Linked DNA regions of Homo sapiens. The protein of the gene in region 1 purifies or fractionates together with the protein of each later gene. This does not show direct contact. Each region holds a gene or a part of one and is shown in the gene's direction. Other genes may lie near its edges.

Region 1 (2,629 bases):
GAGTGTGAGGATGGCTTTCTCTGGTTCCTGAGGCATGGACCGAGTCCTAGCCTGCATCTGAGCTCCGTTGTGCTAGCTTTGTGGTGTCTGGGTCGGGGAAGTTACTGTTAGAAAGTTGCCGTCAGCGGGCGTTGTTCCAGCTTTCCATGGAAATTCTGGGAGCTGCTCCTAGTTTGCGGCGGAGCCTTCCTTCCTTCCCTGCATTGGGCGCTGGACCTTCACGGCCAGGAGGCTCCAAGGCCCAGGCTTTTCGCCAACAGCAACAGGCTACTGGCTGGGCCCAGGCAAGGGGGCCTTGGCAGGAAAAGTTCCTTGCTGTACCTCCACTGCACTCAGAGGCCAGTGAGGGGGGTACCAGACAGGACTCCTTCCTCCCTGGTGAAGTGCCCTTGCAGCTCCCTAGTGTCCACGCCATGGATATTTCCTCCACAGAAGTACAATGCTGATTATGATCTGTCAGCTCGGCAAGGGGCAGACACCCTGGCCTTCATGTCTCTCCTGGAGGAGAAGTTGCTCCCGGTGCTGGTGAGTGTGCCCAGACCTCCCAGCATCCATGGCCAGCCGGGGAGGGTTCGGGAACACACAGACCCACACACAGGCTCAGGAAAGCATGGGGGTCAGAAGCCCACCTTGAATCAGACAGGTGCACTGGCTCAGACCTACCTGTTTCTTCCTGCCCACCCAATCCAGGTACATACTTTTTGGATAGACACCAAGAACTACGTGGAAGTGACCCGGAAGTGGTATGCAGAGGCTATGCCCTTTCCCCTCAACTTCTTCCTGCCTGGCCGCATGCAGCGGCAGTACATGGAACGGCTACAGCTGCTGACTGGGGAGCACAGGCCTGAGGACGAGGAAGAGCTGGAGAAGGAGGTAGCTCTGAGACCGGGGGCTATTGTATGAGATGAGCCCCAAGGATGCTGGCCAGGAATGGGAGTGCTTAGGTGGGGAGGTGGCACTGTTCCCACAGCTGCAAGCCTACCTGTGTCGCCCCTACAGCTGTACCGAGAGGCTCGGGAGTGTCTGACCCTGCTCTCTCAGCGCCTGGGCTCTCAAAAGTTCTTCTTTGGAGATGCGTGAGTCTGACTCCAAGAGGGTAATGGGTGGCTTGGAAGAAGATACAGGTTCAGATGGAGCAGCTGGAGCTGGGGCTGGGGCTGGGGCTGGCTCAGGCTCTGGATAGGAGGTCCCTGGGATAGAAACTGGCCCTAGTGACAGTGTGACTGTGTGGGGGCCAGAGCCTTCTCAGAGGTACAAAAGGGTAGGGTGGGAGGGCAGCCAGGCACAGGAGGGGCCTGAAGAGCTGTGGGGCACTGAATGTGCCCTTTATGCAGCCCTGGGATAGAGCCCTATTCAGGGCCAGGCTGGCGCCACCTGGGGATCTCTCCCCATACCAGGTCTAGAACTGTGTGTCCTGTCCTTCCCTGGTGGCCGCCTGCTGCCCAGAGCCCACCTCCCAAGGCTGACTCTTCCTCCAGCTCCATCTTTACCCCTTCTACCCCAGTGGTTCTCCTCCATCCCACCCTTCTCTCTCTGCTCCAGCCCTGCCTCCTTGGACGCCTTCGTCTTCAGCTACTTGGCCCTGCTGCTGCAGGCAAAGCTGCCCAGTGGGAAGCTGCAGGTCCACCTGCGTGGGCTGCACAACCTCTGTGCCTATTGTACCCACATTCTCAGTCTCTACTTCCCCTGGGATGGAGGTAAGGGGCAGATGGGAGGGGCAGCCCTGGGGAGAGTGGGCAGGGATCCAAGAACTAGTTCTCCTAACACACCTTCCTTCCTTGACCCTCAGCTGAGGTACCACCGCAACGCCAGACACCAGCAGGCCCAGAGACTGAGGAGGAGCCATACCGGCGCCGGAACCAGATCCTATCTGTGCTGGCAGGACTGGCAGCCATGGTGGGCTACGCCTTGCTCAGCGGCATTGTCTCCATCCAGCGGGCAACGCCTGCTCGGGCCCCAGGCACCCGGACCCTGGGCATGGCTGAGGAGGATGAAGAGGAATGATTTGTCCTCACGCTCCCAAGACTGGTTTTTCTACTCTCATGCATTCCAGAGGCCCCCGTGCCTCCTCGTTGTTGGTACAGCCGGACACGGGGTGCTGCCACCCAGAATAAAGCCACTCACACTGACTGGGCTCAAACATTTTCTCCTTTAAGAGCTGCCATTTTTCCTGGCTGGTGCCATAGGAATCATCTGGGTGCCTGGGCACACCCGCTGCTGCTTTAAGGCTTCCGCCCTGATGCTGACACTGCTGCTCCACGGGCCCAGTTCTGCATCTCCAGGAAAGACAAACAGTCTCCAGTTTTGGGCCCAGCTTTCCTAGTCTCTTCTTTTCCTTACCCTCAGCCCTGATCTTGTGTTTGTACGGACAGTGAGCTCACCCTAGGCCTGGACCCAGGCCCAGTTTCCAAAGCAAGCAGCACACAGCGCATGTTCACATAAGCATGGGGGCTGGGGGGACACTGGGGCTTACTGATCTTTTTCTAGGGGCCTCCAGCCCCTGGCACCACCTAGAGGGGAAAGTGAGTCACCCAAACCATTGCCCCTGGGCTTACGTCGCTGTAAGCTCACACTGGCCCTGCTGTGCCCTCTTTAGTCACAGACAGCGTGTGAGCTGACTCTGTCCCTT
Region 2 (3,500 bases), on another chromosome or scaffold:
GACGAGGGTGTCCCACGTGTTCATGTGAAGTATGTCTAAGGACCCTGGGAAGAGGTGGACTGTATCTGAATCAGGATATAGAGTTTTCTGTAGTTATTATTTTTTGCGTTCTCAAGTAATTCAAAGCAGTTATGTACTTGCATAAAATAAGATCACTCACGGTCACTAGTGAATGTGTAGTCAAGACTGTTTTCCATTTGCTGGCAGCAGAGGGGACAGACAGCTACCCATTCTGCTATCAGCCCTAGCAGATAGTCACAGAGAGTCTGCCTGGGCCAAAGCTCCCCTAGGTTACTTGGTTGGTTTCCCCATAGATTCGATGTAGCATTGGTTAAAAACACACAGACACACAGACACACACACATGCACACACACACACACCCCACTCAATGATGCGCAGTTGCCTAATGGTTCTTCAGAGGTAGTGTGGATTCTCCTGATCTAACTTGCAGGCTCAGCGTAAGCGGGGCTGGCCTGGTGGAAGAGGTGTTATCTGCTCAAGGAGACCAGAGCGTTTGCTTTTGTAGCATGATTCCCGCTGGAGAGTCCCTGGAGATGTTGGAAAGGGGAAGAGAACTCTGTTCTTAGCCACAAGCGCACCATAACCCAGTCTCTTCACCCGGCCTGGCCTCAGTTTCCAGGTGTGCAAACAGTGAGGGCCACTGTCCCAGCTCTTGTCTGGGACAATACCAAGTTTCTTCATGAAATTCCCTTGTAGGACACAGGTCTCACACTGCAGAAAGCCAGTGAAGGAGGCAGAAGTCCTGCAGGGCCCAGATGGCCAGAGGGTCCCCCTTTTCGGAGCTGGTCCCGGGGCCCCAGGCCTGGCCTGAGTTATCTTATCTATACCACTGTAGAGGAGTGATGTGTGTGTAGCAGCCTGGTCTGCACCCAGCTACCAGACCACCCCACTGCAAAGCTGCCTGTGGGGTTCGTATCACTTCCATTCTCAAAGCCTCCTCTGCTCCAAAGCCATGGCCTTGCTCTAGACTGTCCTGGCTCCTGCATGGACAAGCCCTGGTCATATTCCTTGCCCACCCTTTAAGGCCCAACTCTTACCTCCATTTGCTCTTCGTGGAGAGTCCTTGCCTCAGCCAGGCTGGGTGACTCTACCCATGGCTGTGCCTTCCTGGAACATCCTTGATCACCCCTACCTCCTTGAAGTCCCCCATAAGCCACCAGAGTAGAAACCCCTCATTTTCCTGCTGAAGGGGCATGCACCACCTTGCTCATGCCTGGGGGGTGATGGGCCTGCGTGCCTTCCCAATTAGCCGGCGGGGTCTCGGGGGTTGGGGGGAGATGTTTCTGATTTGTTGTCCTCACGTGCCCCAGAGCAGTGCCTCCTGGAACAAGAGGCTCAGTCCGTCAACACCAGCTCGGTGACGATTTCAGAAAAGTCTCTCCTGGACGCCCGTCTCCGCTGCTGGCCACAGTCGCTGGTCTTGGTGGGGCACGATTAACTGCTGGCTCATTGAGTACCTACTATGTGCAGCTGTAGCTGTATAGCTGTATAGCTGTAGCTACACAAAGTTACAGAAGACTTGGTGGGGGGTGCGGGGCCTGGTAGGAATGAGGTGGAGGGGCAAGAAACCTGAACAACGTGATGGTACAAAAGCCATTCCAGAATAGAGATGTGCAGTGTGGGGCCAGGAGAAGGTGGGAGAATCAGAAGGGCAGAGGGCATCAGTTGGGAAGAGTCTGTGGTTGGAGACTGCAAACATGTGGAAGGGAGTTTGGAGGGACACTGGCCAGGTGCCTGAACACGTGGCATTCTCTGGAAGGAACTAACCAGCGTGAGGACATGCTGATTGCATACTCAGCCACCACCCATGAAGGCTCTAAACCTGAGTACCTGTAATTCCGGCTTCACCCTCAGCTTGCAGAGTGAGCTCAGGGAGACCATTTGGATGTGGCTAAATACCCCAGGCTGCTTGCTGCAGCACGGTCGTTGTCAAGGATACTTGGTTGATGAATAAAACATCCCAGAAACGAGAGGTGCATCTCCGAGAAAGTCCTGCAATTGACAAGAGGAGCCCCAGTACCATCTGGGCTGTGAGTGACAGAGGAGTCCCTTTGCAGGCCATAGGCTGGCAGGGATGGAGGGCTGGACAGGTGCTTGCCCACCGCCGGCCACGGGAAAGTTCTCTCCCTGTCACTGCAACGTGCGACAGGGCCGCTAAAAAGGTGACCCCTGTACGAAGGAATGAATGAGATAAAACAGAGCAAGCGCTGGGAAAAAGGGAATGAAAGCTGACGTTCACTGCTTTTTGTTCTCCCTTGGGTCTCTGTGGTCCAGGAAAATGCAACATGAACCTCGATTGTTCTGTGGACCATTCCTCCCTCTATGAAAATTTACATAATTCTTGATGTCAAATTTCAAATAACACAGAAGTTTATAGAGTAAAAACTACAAGTCTCCTTTTGTTCCCTCCTCCTACCTTCCCAGCCCCAAGTTTTATACTTACTGCAGGTCTTTTTCTATGCCTTCGTGCACATGTATTTACATATAAAAATACACAAATGTAATTTTTGTGTTTCTTTCTGCATAGCTGGGGTTGTGCTGTGTGTGCGTGTGTCTGGGGTTGTGCTGTGTGTGTGTGTGTGTCTGGGGTTGTGCTGTGTGTGCGTGTGTCTGGGGTTGTGCTGTGTGTGCGTGTGTCTGGGGTTGTGCTGTGTGTGTGTGTGTCTGGGGTTGTGCTGTGTGTGCGTGTGTCTGGGGTTGTGCTGTGTGTGTGTGTGTGTCTGGGGTTGTGCTGTGTGTGCGTGTGTCTGGGGTTGTGCTCTGTGTGTGTGTGTGTCTGGGGTTGTGCTGTGTGTGCGTGTCTGGGGTTGTGCTGTGTGTGCGTTTCTGGGGTTGTGCTGTGTGTGCGTGTGTCTGCGTATTGTCTTTCACTGAACAGCATGTCGTAACTCTCCCTGTGCATGAAGGGAGGCCTCCCTCTCACAGCTGTATTATATTCCAGATGGCGGAGACACCAGGCTTTACTGAGTCGTGCCTTTGTTGAAAGACATTTACGTTGTCTCCAGTGTTTGCTCGTAAATAAATACTGCTTTAAAAAACATCTTGTGTACATTTGGAGACACATGAATATTTTGAGGAGAGAAACGTATGAATTTGTATCATCATAGAACTGGAAAGAAACGTCTTTTGTTCTGCACCCCCTCCCCTTCCTTCCCCCTGGAATCTTTTATGCAGAAACCTTAGAACCTAAGTGTCAGAAGTGGGTCTCATTCCCCTGCCTGCCCTGGCATGGGCACTGAGGCCCTAGAGACGCAGGCAGTGGGCAGGTTTGATTCACACCCAGACATGTTTCTTAGACCCTGGCCTCAAGCGGGAATGGAATTGCTGGTTGATTCCAGCAGAGGGTGACTGGTCTAAGTGGATGTCTCCTTCAGGCCCTGTGGCTATCGGCCTTCCCAACTTCCCAGCGTAAACAGACCCCGCACAGGCTGAGAGGCATTAAGAATGTATACAAGGACCCGAGGGCTGGCCCATCCAG
Region 3 (3,500 bases), on another chromosome or scaffold:
AACATAGTAGACAAAATGTTCAATCAAAAATCATCTGTCATACCAAGAATCAAGTAAATCACAACTTGACTGAGAAAAGGCAACTACTGCCAACATTAAGATGAGTTCGATGTTGGAATTATCTGACAAGGATTTCAAAGTAGCCATCATAAAAATGCCTCAACAATCAATTAACATTATCTTAAAACAAATAAAGAAAAAAAAGGAAACTTGCAGAAAAGAAAAAGAAGTTATAAAAATATAAGAAAGAAGGAAATTCTGTCATTTGCTACAGCATGAATGAACCTGGGGGACATTATGCTAAGTGAAGCAAGCCAGACACAGAAAGACAAACACCACATAATCTCACTTATATGTGAGATCTAAAAGAGTTGAACTCAGAATTAGAGTAGAATGGTTACCAGGGACTGTGGCTTGGAGGGAGTGGGAAATGGGGAGAAGTTGACCAAAGGGTACAAAGTTCCAGTTAGACAAGAGGAATAAGTTTTTAAGACCTATTTTGCAGCATGCTCACCATAGTTGATAATAATGTATGTGCATTTCAAAACTGCTAAAAGCATAAGATTTTAGTCTACACATTGGGTACAGTGTACACTGTTCGGGTAATGGGGGCACCAAAATCTCAGAAATCACCACTAATGAACTTATCCACGTAACCAAACATCACCTGTTCCCCAAAAAAGTATTCAAAAAAATAATAGATTTTAAATGTTCCTGCTATGAAAAAAACAAAACGAAACAAAAGATAGGTAGGCCAGATGTGGTGGCTCATGCCTGTAATCCCGCCACTTTGGGAGGCCAAGGAAGGTGGATCACTTGAGCTCAGGATTTCGAGAAGAGCCTGGGCCACGTGGTGAAACCCTATTTCTACCAAAAATACACACACACACACACACACAAAATTAGCTGGGCATGGTGGCATGTGCCTGTGGTCCTAGCTACTCGGGATGCTGAGATGGGAGAATTGCTTAAGCCTGGGAGGCAGAGGTTGCCGTGAGCCGAGATCACACTACTGCACTCCAACCTGGGTGACAGAGTGAGACCCTGTCTGAAAACAAAACAAAACAGAACAAAAAACAAAAAAAAGGATAAATTACGTGAGGTGATGGATATGTTAATTAGCTCGATGTAATTATTCCACAGTGTATGCATATATTAAAATATCACATTGTATCCCATAAATATATGCAATAATTATTTGTTAATTAATTAAAATAAAAATTAAGTTAAAAACAAGAATTTAAAAAATACATACTTTGCAATTATCTACTATTTTTCTAAAGACCCTTACAATCTATAGGCTCTTTCTCAGTTTTCTTTTTTCCCCCTTGGAATTATTTTTTGAATAAAACTGGCTTGTTTGTCCCCTCCCCCCAAAAAACAAATATAAATTATAGAACTGTAAAATAAAATAACAAAAATGAAAAACTGGCTGATGGACTCAATAGAAGAGCAGAGATGACAGAAAATAGAATCCATATCTGGTGAAACTATCCTTCAGGAATTAAGGGGAAATAATTAAATTCTCAGTTGAAGGAAAACAAAAAGATTTGTTGCTAGCAGACATACTGTTAAAAAATAGCTAAAGGGATTTCTTCAAACAGAGAATAAATGATAAAGAGCAATCAGGAAGGATGAAAGGACAACAGAAAGAGCAGAAATGTAAGTACATAAAGTAGACTATCTTTTAACTCATGAGTTCTATAAATCATATTTGATAATTGAAGCAAAATTATAACACCATTTTATACTCTAGACAATGATATTTAAAAGTGGGGAAGGTAAAGGAAACTAAATGGAAGTGAGGTTTATACACTTCAATCAAAGTGGTAAAATATTGATATGAGTAGACTGTTATGACTCACACATGAATGTTGAATACCCAGAGAAACCACTGGGAAAACTCTACAAAGATATATATTTTAAAACACTATGAATAAGTCAAGATGGAATCATAAAAAATGCTCAAGTAACTATCAGAAAAGCAAGAAAAGGGAAACAGAAGAATAAGAACTAAAGGGAACAAACAAAAAACAAATAATAAAATAGCAAACAAGAATAATATATCAATAATTACATTAAATAATTATATTGAATGCGAATACCACTACAGTAGTCCCCTTTTATCTGTGGTTTTACTTTCTGAGGTTTCAGTTACCCATAGTACAGTATAATAAGATATTTTGTGAGAAAGAGTGTGAGTGTGTGAACACAATCACATAATTTTTACTCCAGTACATTGGTATAATTGTTCTATTTATTAGTAGTTATCATTGTTAATCTCTTACTGTGCCTAATTTATAAATTAAACTTTATCATAGGTTTGTGTGTATGGGGGAAAAATATATATAGTATACATAGAGTTCAGTACTATCCATGGTTTCAGGCATCCACTGGGGGTCTTGGAATATATCTCCCTGGAATAAGGGGGAACTACTCTATATGCTATTCACAAGAAACTCACATTAAATTTGATGACATAGGAAGATTGCAAGTAAAAATATAGAAAAAGATGTACCACATAAGTATTAATTTTTCAAAAATCTGGAGAAGCTTCATTAATATCTGATAAAATAGTCTTCAGAGCAAAGAAAGTTAAAAGAGATAAACAGAGACATTACCTAATGATAAATGGATCAATCCAGCAGGAGGATACAATGATCCTTAATGGGTACACACCAAACAACTATGTCTCAAAATTCATGAACAAAAACTGATCAAGCTAAAAGAAGAAAGAGACAAATCCACAATTATAGTTGGGAAATTCAATACCCCCTCTCAGAAATTGATAAATCTACTAGACAGAACATCAGTAAATATAGGGAAGATCTGAAAAAGACAGTCAATTAACAGGATCCAGTTGAATATTTTTACGATTTTATATTGGTTTTTCCATAGTGGTTTTAAATTATATCTCTTTGTATAGAAAACTCCACCCAACAACAGCAGAACACACTTTTTTTTGGCACCTACAGAACATTCACCAAGATAGATAATGTGCTTGGCCGTAAAACAAACCTAAACAAATTTAAAATAATTGAAATCATACAGAGTATATTCTCTGACTACAATGCAATGAAACTAGAAATCTGTAGCAGAAAAGTATCTAAACACGTGGAAATTAAACAACACTGTTCTAAATAATCCGTGGATCAAAGAGGAAATCTCAAAAGGAATTTTTTTAAAAATGCGTAGAACTGAATGCAAATGAAAACACAACATATTGAAATATGTACCATGTAGATAAAGCAATTCTGAGAGAGAAATTTCTAACACTAAATGTTTACATTGGAAATAAAGGAAGGTCTTAAGTCAATAACCTAAATTTCTACATCAAGGATCTAGAAAAGAAGACCAAAATAAACCCAAAGCAAGCAGAAGGAAGGGAATAATAAAGAGCTGAAATCAATGAATTTGAAATAGAAAAACTATAGGGAAAAATTAATAACACAAAAATTTGCTTTTCTGAAAAAAAAATCAGTAAAACTGACAAACTTCTA
Region 4 (3,500 bases), on another chromosome or scaffold:
AGGATTGCTTGAGGCCAGGAATGGGAGACCATCCTGAACAACATAGTGAGACCCCCATCTGGACAAAAAATTAATAAATTAGCCAGACATGGTGGCACATTCCTATAGTCCGAGCTACTTGAGTTCAAGGTTATAATGAGTTATGATTTGCACCACTGCACTCTGGCTTGAGTGACAGAGTGAGACCCTGTCTCTAAAAAAAAATAAATAAATAAAAATAAAATATGTATATATATACATATTTTATTTTACTTTTTTTATATGTGTATATATATACACATATGTATATAAGTTTTGAAGTATCTTCGAGTATAAAATTGCCTAGGAACATTAGATAAATAATGATTTATATGATTTATATGTTTTTTAGTATTACATAGAGTAAAGACATTTCAAAGACTTGTCATTAGTAGCTTCGGAGCCTAAAGTCTAGGGAGTTTCTGAATTTATTTTCCATATGTTATGGAGCACCCACTCAGTTGACATTTCTTAGTGGAGAGTCCCTACTCCATTTATACTCCATTAAACTCCATTTATACTGCCTCACTTTTAAATGGATGCCCTATTTCTTCTACCTGGGAGTTTACTTACTGTTTTTACCTAAAGTCATTTGTGATCATTTGGCAATAAATTAATTCTAGATTAATTAAAACAGGCCATCCCTTTTATATTGAACATGCACATACAAGTGAATGTTGTTTTTCCCCTTTTGCAAATCGGAAAAAAGGCCTGAAGATTAGCACTAGGATTAGGAATTCCAGGATAGCTGTTCTGTCTGCCTCGGAGGCATTGGGGCTGACCTCATCTCCCTGACCATGTCTCCTATGCCCCCAAGCTGACCGTCCTTTCCGAGGAGAGAGCGGCGCTGCTGGAGCTGTGGGAGCTGCGCAGGCAGCAGTACGAGCAGTGCATGGACCTGCAGCTCTTCTACCGGGACACTGAGCAGGTGGACAACTGGATGAGCAAGCAGGAGGTAATCTGTGAGCAAAGCCTTGCCAGTGGTGGGAGAAGAAGGGCCTGTGTTTTGCCTCCTCGGGTAGTGTGCTTGTTTTGTTTTAGGACATCAGTACCATGTTAGTTCTGAATCCATTGAAGAGGGGGAATTGAGCAAGCTTCTCTCAGCTCTGCCAGCATCTCTCCCTGCTGAGATTGCAAGGCCTTCAGAAAAGGCCCCAGCTTTTCAGATTAGTGTGATGTAAAATGTTTTATTAAAGAGATTTTTTTCTTAGAACTTAGCATTGCTGGGTGCAGTGGCTCCCTGCTGTAATCCCAGCACTTTGGGAGGCTGAGATGGGAGTATCCCTTGAGCCCAGGAGCTCAAGGCTGCAGCAAGCTATGATCGTACCACCGCACTCTAGCCTGTGCAACAGACCGAGATCCTGTCTCACAAAAAAAAAAAAAACAAACAAAAAAAACAAACCTTAGCATTATGTAACATCTGAATCTAATAGAAGCAACAAAAACTATGTAAGAGAAGTTTCAATAGAATGTGGAATAGGATTTCATGATATGGCTGGATTGATTTTAAGAAAATCCAAAAGGACTTTAGACTTCCTAGAAGAGATCTTAGAAGTTTAGCAGCCATAAAATCTCTTTCCTTCTTTTTATATTTTGGCCAAAATACCCTTTGCTTCACAGTCTTAGAAGATCAAAGGAATAGGACATTATTCTGAACACTTTGTTTCCTTTGGCAAGGCGTTCCTGTTGAATGAAGACTTGGGAGATTCCTTGGATAGTGTGGAAGCGCTTCTTAAGAAGCACGAAGACTTTGAGAAATCCCTTAGTGCCCAGGAGGAAAAGATTACAGTAAGACCCCTTCTTGTCAGTGCTTTCAAATGACCCTTATAGTAAGCCAGAGTCTTTTTCCCTGGAAGGATTCCAAACAGATTTGATGAAAGATTCATATGCAGAGTACTCCTGTGGGTGCTTAAACTTTCACAAGGATGACATGCTATCTCGTTGAAGACATAATACAACTTTATGGAAAAATGATTTACTTAATGGAAACCTCCAAACTTCTTTAAGTTTGTACCCTTCATTAAAAGTAGGTCAGGGTTAATATTAAGAGGTACTCTTCCCATTGAAAATACATCTTAGAAATAAGAATTTGGAAAGCTGTTAACCTGTGTTTGACCCCTGCCAGGAGATCGTGCCACAACTAATGTCTCCAGTCTTGAATGGAGGTAGTGCAGTCTTATGATATCTGACTGGTGACATCAAGCAAAATCTCAAAAGTTATGAGAAAAAATGTCATCACCAACCTTTGGGTGAAAACCTTGACCTATGTTAAAGTTTGGTGTGTTTTATGATCTGTTCAGCAGTTACTTTTCTCCAGAGGCCAAGCTTGGGACTAGTGTGCTTACCAATGAAGAACTCTTATCTTCCTTCCTAGGCATTAGATGAATTTGCAACCAAGCTAATTCAGAACAACCACTATGCAATGGAAGATGTGGCCACTCGCCGAGATGCTGTAAGTTTGTAGGTTCTTCATGCTCCTCCTTTTTGGTACATGAATGTCTCTTCTAAGATGTTCCAGTTAAGTCTCTTCAACTGGATATCCCTTTGGGAGTGAACACTAGAGACTCACAGGGGATCCTTGTCTTTCAGCTGTTGAGCCGCCGCAATGCCCTTCACGAGAGAGCCATGCGTCGCCGGGCCCAGCTAGCCGATTCTTTCCATCTGCAGCAGTTTTTCCGTGATTCTGATGAGCTCAAGAGTTGGGTCAATGAGAAGATGAAAACTGCCACAGATGAAGCTTATAAAGTAATGTACTGTTAGTGTTGCCATGTAGCACTCGATTAGTAAGCTAAACACAGCTCTCACAAATAAATTGTAGCTAAAGGACGAAATAAGGGATTCCAGAAACCCCACTACTTAATGTAAGCCAACTGTTTTATACATTCCTCCATAAAGATAAGTATGAAGGTAGTGCAAGGGAACTTGACGTTCTCAGGTTCAAGATAGAAAGAACCCCCTTCTTTTATTCACAGGATCCATCCAACCTACAAGGAAAAGTACAGAAGCATCAGGCTTTTGAGGCTGAGCTCTCAGCAAACCAGAGCCGAATTGATGCCTTGGAGAAAGCTGGCCAAAAGCTGATTGATGTCAACCACTATGCCAAGGATGAAGTGGCAGCTCGTATGAATGAGGTGATCAGTTTGTGGAAGAAACTGCTAGAGGCCACTGAACTGAAAGGTAAGAGATGTTCCATTGAATTGTGACATGCATGTTTGGGGAACTAAATACCCCTTTCTATTAAGTATTTTAGGGACATATACCCCCCAAGAAAGGTGAGGTGGATGACTTTGGCGTTAGGGATAATTTCCTGTGTAGGAATTACTTGGCTTAAGTTCTTGATAATAATTTGGTAAATGTGGTCGAGCATACTGGTTGGTGAGGGAGTCTGAGTGAGAAGGAACTGAATTGGGCCTCATTGCTGAAAATCAAAGTTCAGCTGAGAGCCAAGGGCATTTACTAATTCTCCAGTGTCCTTATATCTC
Region 5 (3,500 bases), on another chromosome or scaffold:
CCCTATTTCTTTTCTTTTTATAACTTAAAGTTTTATTTTAGATTCAGGAGGAATATGTGCAGGTTTGTTACGTGGGTGTATCACATGATGGCGAGATTTGGGGTACAAATGATTCCATCACCCAGGTAGTGAGCATAATACTCAACAGTTAGTGTTTCAACTCTTCTCCCCAACCTCCCTCTTCCCTCTATTAGTCCCCAGTGTATGTTGCTGCCATCTTTATGTTCATGTGTACCCAATGTTTAGCTCCCACTTATAAGTGAGAATATGCAGTGTTTGGTTTTCTGCTTCTGCATTAATTCACTCAGGATAATGGCCTCCAGTTGCATCCATGTCACTGCAAAGGACATTATCTTGTTCTTTTTTATGGCTGTGTAGTATTCCATGATGTATATGTACCACATTTTCTTTATCCAATTGACCACTGATGGGCACTTAAGTTGATTTAGTATTTTTGCTATTGTGAATAATGCTGCAATGAATATACGAGTGCCATGTGTCTTTTTGGTACAATGATTTATTTACTTTTGAATATATACTCAGTAACGGGATTGCAGAGTCAAATGGTAGTTCTGTTTTAAGTTCTCTGAGAAATCTCCAAACTGCTTTCCATAGGCTAGACTAATTTACATCCCCACCAACTGTATATAGGCATTCCCTTTTCTCTGCAGCAGCTCCAGAATGTGGTTGTGTTTTTTTTGACTTTCTGATAATAGCCATTCTGACTGGTGTGAGATGATAGCATATTGTGGTTTTGATTTGCATTTCTCTGATGATTAGTGATGTTGAGCATTTTTTCGTATGTTTGTTGGCCACTTGTATGTCTTCTTTTGAGAAGTGTCTGTTCATGTCTTTTGCCCACTTCTTAATGGGGTTCTTTTTTGTTTTTTGAAATATAATTTTTACAGATTCTGTATATTAGTAATATGTTGAATACATAGTTGGTGAATATTTTCTCCCATTCTTTAGATTCTCTGTTTACTCTGTTGATAGTTCATTTTCCTGTGCTCCAGCTCTTTAGTTTAATTAGGTCCCACTTGTCAATTTTTGTTTTTGTTGCAATTCCTTTTGAGAACTTAGTTATAACTTTTTTCTCAAGGCCAATTTTTTCTCAATGTCAAGAATGATATTTTCTAGGTTTTCTTATAGGATTTTTATAGTGTGAGGTCTTATATCGAAATTTTTAATCCATCTTGAGTTAATTTTTGTCTATAGTATTAGATAGTGCTCCAGTTTCATTCTTCTGCATATGACCTACTAGCTATCCCAGCACCATTTATTGAATAGGGAATCCTTTCCCCATTATTTATTTTTGTTGATTTTGTTGAAGATCAGCTGGCTGTAAGTGTACAGCTTTATTGCTGGGTTCTCTATTCTGTTTCATTTTTGTATCTGTTTTTTGTACCAGTACCATGCTGTTTTGTCTACTGTAGCCTTACTGTATAGTTTGAAGTCAAGTAATGTGATGCTTCCAGCTTTGTTCTTTTTGTTTAGAATTGCTTTGGCTATTCAGGCTCCATTTTGGTTCCATATGAATTTTAGAACAGTTTTTTCTAATTCTGTAAAAAATGACATTGGTAGTTTGATAGGAATAGTATTGAATGTATACATTGCTTTGGGTAGTATGGCCATTTTAACAATATTGATTCTTCCAATTCTTGAGCATGGAATGTTTCCCCATTTGTTTCTGTCATCTATGATTTCTTTCAGCAGTGTTTTGTAGTTCTCCTTGTGGAAGTCTTTCACTTCTTTGGTTAAATGTATTCCTAGGTATTTTATTTTTTGTGTAGCTATTGTAAATGGGATTGCATTCTTGATTTGTCTCTCAGATTGAATGCTATTGCTGCATAGATATGCTACTGAGTTTTGTACCTTTATTTTATATCCTGAAACTTTATTGAAGTCGTTTATCAGTCCCAGGAGGCTTTTGGTGGAGTCTTTGAGTTTTCTAGGTATAAGATTATATCGTCAGTGAAGAGAGACCATTTGGCTTCTTATTTTGCTATTTGGATGCCTTTTATTTCTTTCTCTTGCCTGATTGCTCTGGCAAGGACTTCCAGTACTATGTTGAATAGGAGTGGTGAGAGTGGGCGTCCTTGTCTTGTTCCAGTTCCAGTTCTAGTTCTAGCATTCAAGGAGATGCTTCCAGCTTTTGCCTGTTTAGTGTGATGTTGGCTGTGGGTTTGGCATAGATGGCTCTTATTATTTTGAGGTATGTTCCTTCAATGCCTAGTTTGTTCAGAGTTTTTATCATGAAGGAAGGTTGGATTTTATCAAAGTCTTTTCCTCCCAAACCCCTATTTCCAGATAAAGTTACATTCGTGGATACTGAGCATTAGGATTTCAACATTTGGTTTTGGAGGACACAATTCAACCTACAATATATCCAATAACAAAACGAATGACAGCAGTGCATTGCCTATATATTCCTAGGTTCAAAGTCAGCAGAAAGAAGAGTATGTCTCTCTCCTAACCACTCAGGCAAAACCATGACCTGTCATTCACTGGCCCTAATGTGCTCATCCCTGAGCAGTCACCGTGACCAGAGGGATATGACACCGTGTTTGTCAGACATAAGTGCCCTGCCCAACACTGGAGCACCTAGGCCAAGCATGTAGGAAATGTAGGCTTTCCAGAAGAACATTAGAAATCATTACTAAAGAGTAATGGATACCGGATGGCCAAATAGTTCTTATACATCAAGACAATTTAAAATACGTCCAAGATAATATGATTAATAAAGTATAAATAAAGTAGATATAGCATAGACATGTGGTTACTCTTTACCCATGATGTATTATTTTTCTTTTATGTTTTGTTGAATCCCAGTTTTATTGAGGTATGATTGACTTACATTAATGTGCACATATGTAAAGTGTAAACTTGATGAGTTTTAACATATATGAAACCATTACCACATTCAAGATAATAACTATCTCTATCACCTGCAAAAGTTTTCTTACATCCTCTTGTAATCCACCCTCCCCTGCCCTGCCCATTCCTAGGAAGCTTAATCTGTTTTCTGTCCCTATAGATTAGTTTGCATTTTTAAGAATTTTATATAAATGGAATTATAAGTAGGTATTATTTTGCATCTAGGTTTTCTACTCAGCCTAGTTATTTTTGGTTCTATCCAAGTTGTTGTGTGTATAAATAGCTCATTCATTTTTATTGCTCAGTAGTATTCTATTGTATGGCTATACCACAGTTGGTTTGTTCATTCACGGTTTGTTTATCCATGGACATTTGGGTCATTTTCAGGTTTTAGATATTATAAAGAAAGATCTCAATTGGGAAACGCTTACTTAAAATTAGAATGTATTTTATTTAATTATGAATAAATTATGTGTAAGTGTAACGTTCGTTGCAATATTTATCTAAAATGCTGATAAAATTTTTTCCTTTTTCCTTTCCAGATACTGAGGAGAGCAGACAAAAATGGTAAGACCAAAAATCTACAGTATCTATTTATTAATCTCTTACATTTTATATTACCTTAT
Region 6 (2,280 bases), on another chromosome or scaffold:
CCATTTACCTTTGTTGAATTACTGGTAAATTTTTTACGAAATTGTTTATAAATATCTGACAACTAAAATTACTTATTTATAAGCTGTTAGCAGTCCTTATTACATAAAGAAACAGCAGTGTCTGTCTTAGAAGTTCCCACATTTTAAGTTTATCATCATATGCTTTCCCTTTTGACAGCAGTAGGTTTGACCTTGAGTTATTTGTTTTAAGCTTGTTTATCTCAATTATTATATGAATGTTGTAGAAACTAGTGGTAAGCTCAGATTCAAATAGCTACATGGAATTTGATGGTTACTAAATAAGTAGATTAGTGTTTGCTTGTGAGTGTGATTGATTAGGAATAGTGTTAATGTTGTGATATAGAATTTGAGTAGTCACCAATTTGGGCTGTAGAATTTGGTGGGGGTAGTATTATCTAAAGGCAGAACTTTTTGAATCATAGTGCTTAAACAGTAAGGTATAATATAAAGTGGCATGTTAGAAGTGATATTTTCCTTTTGCTTGTTATTTAGTAAATACTTAATGAGCACTTCCTCTTTCTCCAGGTGTGATGGGTGCAGTGGTGGCTCCTCTGACAATATTAGGGGGTCCTCTTCTCATCAGAGCTGCATGGTACACAGCTGGCATTGTGGGAGGCCTCTCCACTGTGGCCATGTGTGCGCCCAGTGAAAAGTTTCTGAACATGGGTGCACCCCTGGGAGTGGGCCTGGGTCTCGTCTTTGTGTCCTCATTGGGTAAGCTGCTGTGTTTTAACACTTAATTCTTGGTGCATAGTTTCCTGTAACCTGAAATACTCCAATATCCTAATTGATTGAGTCATTTATTTTAAAAGTTTTTTTAAAGATTTATGCTAATTTGACTGGATTTTACTACCTGACATCATATAAAAATCATGGCAACATGGTCAACCATTATTACTGGCTTTACCAAACACATCTAAAATGGGAAAGTTGGTCTGGAGAACATGAATATTGCTCTGATGCAAGAACCTTCCTGTGAAATGGGCAAGTGGCTCATTGGAGGAATGAGTATCATGGATTTTGAACTAATGCAAATAAGATTAGACAGTACATGTACCCAGATGTCGTCTTACCTACACAGTATACCAAGGAGATTTTTTTTTAAGTAATATAAATCATAAACTCAGTTATCGGAAATCCTTTTTTAAAAAAAATCTTGTTTTCGCATTTTGATTTCAGGATCTATGTTTCTTCCACCTACCACCGTGGCTGGTGCCACTCTTTACTCAGTGGCAATGTACGGTGGATTAGTTCTTTTCAGCATGTTCCTTCTGTATGATACCCAGAAAGTAATCAAGCGTGCAGAAGTATCACCAATGTATGGAGTTCAAAAATATGATCCCATTAACTCGTAAGTAATGCTTTTTATTTAACACTGTTACTCTGTCACATAAGGATGCTTGTGTGTATTTGACCTGTTTTGGTTTATGGCTGTATTAGTTTTCTAGGGATACTGTTAACAAAGTATCGCAGACTGGGTGGCTTAAAACAAAACTTGATTCTCTTGTAGTTCTGGAGGCCAGAAATCTAAAATCAAGGTGTTAGCAGAGTTGTACTTCTGAGGGCCCTGAGGGAAAATCTGTTCCCTGCCTCTCAGCTTCTTGTTACTGCTGGCAGTCCTTGACATTCCTTGGCTTGTAGATGGATCATTCCAGTCTCTGTCTCCATCTTCACATGGTGCTCTTCCTGTGTACCAGGGATTAGGATTTCATTATATTTTGTTGGGGGGCAGAGGAGGGTCACAGCTCAAACCACACCAATGGCTTTGTCAGATTTCCTGTTTTACTTCTGTTGCAGTTTTGTCTGTTCTCTCTTTAGTAAACTATCCAAAAAAACCTCTTGATTTTATTGCAACTTAGTGTAATACTTAGGTATTCATTCCATTATCAGAATATTTTGTCTATTTTTGTGAGCCAGTGTCAGGGTGCAATAAATAATGTGCTCTTACTGCTCAGTTAATTTTTTTGGTAGTGTATTTTGCAGACTTTAAAACTGAAGAAATGTATTAATCAAGTATTATTTATTGGAAAATGTATATAATTGACATGGAATTTTTAATAGAAAAGCCTATTTTATACTTCTAGAAATTAGAAACTCTTCAGTATAAAGAGTCTAGTTTCAGAGATATGCAACTTTAGTTGGTATTAATTGTTATTATGTTTTTTTCTTTTTTCTTGGAGTCGACCAAAGTGGGTTATTTTATTTAAACAATTTTCTTGAGTTTCATTGTGTCTGTCACATTTTTTTAAAGTAATTTGA
Region 7 (3,500 bases), on another chromosome or scaffold:
CTAAAATGAGAGCACAGTCAGGTAAGAGTGCAGTGAACACATAGAGAAAGCAAAGCTAACTTAGAAAAGGGATGGGAAGGGACAAATTGTGTTTATTGAGCATCTTCTGTGTGCACAGTGCCTTGGAAGAGACATGTGAGAAAGTCAGGAAGCAGCCGGAGAGCAGCATGGGATGATGGGAGAGCTGTGGGGAGCCAGAGGGAGAGCAGGAGAAGGGTTGGCTTAGGGGTCTTCGCATGGCTGGTGGGTATGGCCTTGCTGGGTTACCCCAGGTGAAGCAGGGGACACAGACTCCTGCCTGTCACAGCCTAGCTCACGTGTGCCCCACCATGAAAAGCATCCCCCTTCTTGTGGCTTGACTCTGTTCCTCTTCACAATGGTCCTGCTTTTTCACTATCATTCTTTGGGTGACTTGGAAGGCTCAGCTATCAGCATCTTCAGTGTTCTTGTCCTTTTCCTTTTATAACTGTGCATTTTAAAGATTATGAACCTAGTCTGAGAACATCAATTCTCTAATTTTAATTTGGGGAGAAGAAGAAAGGAAAATGTATCCATTGGACAGAAGTACGCATCCATACTGATGTGATTCTTGACTCCTTAAACTTTGGTGGAGTTCCATATTAGGAAATGTATTTTGGTTGTTTAAAAAAGTGTAAATTTCCTTTCATAAAGTATAACTATGTGCCAGGCAGATCTCAGTGGGGACTGGCACCCTCCCCAGCCAGAGTGTGGAGAGGCCATCACTCTGGTCTTTGGGATTTGGGTTGGAGATAGGGAAGAGGGAGGAGAAAGATGGTGCCCTGGCATTAGGCTTAAGCTGTTTTCCACTGTCAAGTCTTCCAGGCACTGGGCCAGCTGAAACTAAGAGATGTCGTCTCTTCTTGGAGGTCTTGAAAATCCAGGAGTTCCCTGATGTCACAAAGGAAATAGGAGAGGTGCTATGGACCAAGCAGGGCAGCAAAAAGTTGACAAATCAGAGCCAGACTGGAGAATGGAGGGGACTCCACTTTATCTACTGAGTCTTCCTAGCAGGTGACAACCTTTGGGAATGCCCCTGGAGCCCTTTGTTTGGGGCAGTAGTGGAGCCACTTAAGAGAGTCCATGAGACAGGTCTGTGAACTTACGGGGGTATGGACTGCTTCCAAACGAAGGCAGCTAATGACAGAGGCTGTTCTGGACATGTCTATTAGACACTCAAACATGGGTCTGTGGTGAGATGTATTAGAATGTTGGTGTTGAGAAGGCCTTTAGAGAGCCTTGGCCTAAAAATTCATTTTGCATTGAGTATCTCAAGACTCAGCAAGCTGAATGAATTGCCCAAGGTCACACATCTTAGGAGTGAGTAACAGAGCCACCAATTGAAGAGAATCCCCCTTGCCTGCAGGACACCCATACATGCATACATGTAATAAATTCCCCACGAGCATGCACACATATGCAGGCCTATGTTAGAAGACGGCAAGTTTATACTGTGCACTTACTAAACAACAACAAGTTCTTTTGAGACCAGAGGAGTTGGCAATCTCTGACAGTTTCCTGTAGAAAACTTTCTTAAAACCCTGACTTTTTGGGCGATGCTCTTGGGAGAAAAATCAGCTGCAGGCGTCCGTCTGGCTGCCCATGGGCAAGTGTTCGTGCTGCCGTTGCTTCCTGCCACAATACAAAAAGCCAAGTTCATCATGGAAGTCTGCAGAGCTGCAGGTCCTAACACCGTGTGGTAGCCTTGGAGAGAATAGAGGGAAAACAGCTTTGCAAGACAGGCTAATGCCGGGACGGGGAGTAATGGAGCAAGATAACAAGCTTTTGATTTTTCTTTTGGCTTTAATTAGCCCTTTCAAGTTACAGGCAAGTTCAGGGCCGAGAGTAGAAAGGAGGAGGCCAGAAACTCTGCACAGGCCTGGGGCTGTCTCTCCAGCCAGTCTGAAAAAGGCCAGGCTGGTGTTTAATGCACAGTATCAGTTTCCTTTGATTTGGCAGATACCCGAGTTCCTTTGCTCCCACCCTCCTGTTACGATTCCTTTGGAGTCGGCTCAGACCACACGTGTTTCGTGCGACATCGGCCAGGCCAGGCTCTGTGTTGCCCCGATGGCACCATTTGCAAACCCAGCTCTTCCTCAACTCATTTACAAGGCTGTTGGGTTGGTTTTCTTGTTCCCTTCCTGCCTAGAGGTGGAGGATGAACAAGATGAACTCTGGAGATCTCTCTTGTCACGGAGTCTGACACTCCCTTGAGCCCTGTGAATTGAGAACTCAGTCCCAGATGACCTCTGTCCTGTGGTGTTTCTGTTGTAGGAAGATGACAGAGGGCAGGGCAAGGCCCAGGAGGTTGGCTTTTAGGACTTGTATTTTGTAGGGTAAGGGGTCCCCTGTGGGTTTTATCATAGTTACAACTCTAAAAGCTTGAAGAAGGGATTTGAGTAGCAATGAATGTCAACTGTGCTCCAGGCTGTACCAGCTCTCTAAATTAGAATGCTCCTCCCATGGGGCTCTTCAGGCTTTTCTAGCCCTTTCCACATCCTGAGACCCACATTCTTCCCCCTGAACTCACACCTCCAGAACTCAGAGCCGGGATCCGCAAAACTCCTGGGCCACCTGCCTCCTTCACAAGGTCCCAGCACCTGCTTTGGCTGTGTTCATTTGGGGGATAGGAAGGAATGGGAAGAAGAACCCCTACTACAAGGCCCCTTGTGCCAGGGAGCATCCACAGAGCACTGGGCAGGCCAGAGCCTGAGGACCGCACAGAGGGAAAAGTCTTGGGCCGTTGGGGTAGAACCTGCTGACCTGCAGCCCCCAGAGAGCTCAGCTGTACCTCAACTTCAGGTGAATCAGGGAAGGCCGGCTGTGCTCCCATTGGAGATGAGGGCTGGTTGGCCAGGAGTGGCCTCCTCATGGGAATGTGTTGCTGTGGACATAAACGAACCTGTCACAAATGTACATTCCTGAGTGGGCACCAAGTGTGGAGGCTAGGGAAGCAGCTGGGGCTTTCTGGTGTCAGTGGAGGGTGGGAACAGCAGCTTCCGCCTTCACCCTCTGAGCCATGCTTTACCCCTGTCCTGGCTTTCTCCAGCCTGGGTGGAAAGAGGTCTCCCAGAACAAGTGGGTTAGTATCTGAAAGTAACTCTGAGGATCTCATGAGGACATGGGTATGAGGGGGGGTCCTAGAGGGTCTGTCAGAGCCCCAATTGTCTTGGGACTCAGGGGACTAGAGGTCAAGCTGAGACTGATTTGCTAATGAGCACTCATGTGGGGAATGGCAGTGATTTCATTTCTCAGTTTCTGTGGCTTATCACTGGTGCATCTCTATCCCCAGCCCCTTTTGAAGGCTGCCATCCAGGCTCCCTGAGGCCCCCTGTCTGCAGAGCATGTGACAGACAGTAAGGCTGGGGAGCCCACACCTGTGGCCTCTGTCATGTGCCAGGACCTTATGCAGGAGAAGGTGATGGCTGTCTGTCCTTCTCTGGGGGGGACCTGACACTCCTGACTTGGAGTGGGCAGCTGGC

Evidence for each region.
Region 2: the proteins of MTX1 (region 1) and ACKR3 purify together in Homo sapiens (co-immunoprecipitation; one large-scale study listed by IntAct). This does not show direct contact.
Region 3: the proteins of MTX1 (region 1) and VSIG1 purify together in Homo sapiens (co-immunoprecipitation; one large-scale study listed by IntAct). This does not show direct contact.
Region 4: the proteins of MTX1 (region 1) and SPTAN1 fractionate together in Homo sapiens (co-fractionation; one large-scale study listed by BioGRID). This does not show direct contact.
Region 5: the proteins of MTX1 (region 1) and NECAB1 fractionate together in Homo sapiens (co-fractionation; one large-scale study listed by BioGRID). This does not show direct contact.
Region 6: the proteins of MTX1 (region 1) and GHITM purify together in Homo sapiens (affinity purification with mass spectrometry; 2 studies listed by BioGRID and IntAct, with this or other methods). This does not show direct contact.
Region 7: the proteins of MTX1 (region 1) and PLXNA4 fractionate together in Homo sapiens (co-fractionation; one large-scale study listed by BioGRID). This does not show direct contact.

The regions. Positions count from the first base shown.
Region 1 is NC_000001.11:155,211,695-155,214,323, forward strand, and holds the end of MTX1 (metaxin-1), read left to right. Parts: intron 1-432; coding exon 433-525; intron 526-690; coding exon 691-873; intron 874-999; coding exon 1,000-1,076; intron 1,077-1,542; coding exon 1,543-1,697; intron 1,698-1,789; coding exon 1,790-2,004; 3' UTR 2,005-2,129; downstream 2,130-2,629. UniProt on the Homo sapiens protein: Involved in transport of proteins into the mitochondrion. Essential for embryonic development.
Region 2 is NC_000002.12:236,572,825-236,576,324, forward strand, and holds part of ACKR3 (atypical chemokine receptor 3), read left to right. Parts: intron 1-3,500. UniProt on the Homo sapiens protein: Atypical chemokine receptor that controls chemokine levels and localization via high-affinity chemokine binding that is uncoupled from classic ligand-driven signal transduction cascades, resulting instead in chemokine sequestration, degradation, or transcytosis.
Region 3 is NC_000023.11:108,051,565-108,055,064, forward strand, and holds part of VSIG1 (V-set and immunoglobulin domain-containing protein 1 isoform 2 precursor), read left to right. Parts: intron 1-3,500.
Region 4 is NC_000009.12:128,580,087-128,583,586, forward strand, and holds part of SPTAN1 (spectrin alpha chain, non-erythrocytic 1), read left to right. Parts: intron 1-835; coding exon 836-973; intron 974-1,695; coding exon 1,696-1,806; intron 1,807-2,392; coding exon 2,393-2,470; intron 2,471-2,607; coding exon 2,608-2,763; intron 2,764-2,990; coding exon 2,991-3,195; intron 3,196-3,500. UniProt on the Homo sapiens protein: Fodrin, which seems to be involved in secretion, interacts with calmodulin in a calcium-dependent manner and is thus candidate for the calcium-dependent movement of the cytoskeleton at the membrane.
Region 5 is NC_000008.11:90,798,275-90,801,774, forward strand, and holds part of NECAB1 (N-terminal EF-hand calcium-binding protein 1), read left to right. Parts: intron 1-3,416; coding exon 3,417-3,441; intron 3,442-3,500.
Region 6 is NC_000010.11:84,149,509-84,151,788, forward strand, and holds part of GHITM (growth hormone-inducible transmembrane protein), read left to right. Parts: intron 1-546; coding exon 547-735; intron 736-1,200; coding exon 1,201-1,372; intron 1,373-2,280. UniProt on the Homo sapiens protein: Plays an important role in maintenance of mitochondrial morphology and in mediating either calcium or potassium/proton antiport. Mediates proton-dependent calcium efflux from mitochondrion.
Region 7 is NC_000007.14:132,503,471-132,506,970, reverse strand, and holds part of PLXNA4 (plexin-A4 isoform 1 precursor), read left to right. Parts: intron 1-3,500. UniProt on the Homo sapiens protein: Coreceptor for SEMA3A. Necessary for signaling by class 3 semaphorins and subsequent remodeling of the cytoskeleton. Plays a role in axon guidance in the developing nervous system. Class 3 semaphorins bind to a complex composed of a neuropilin and a plexin.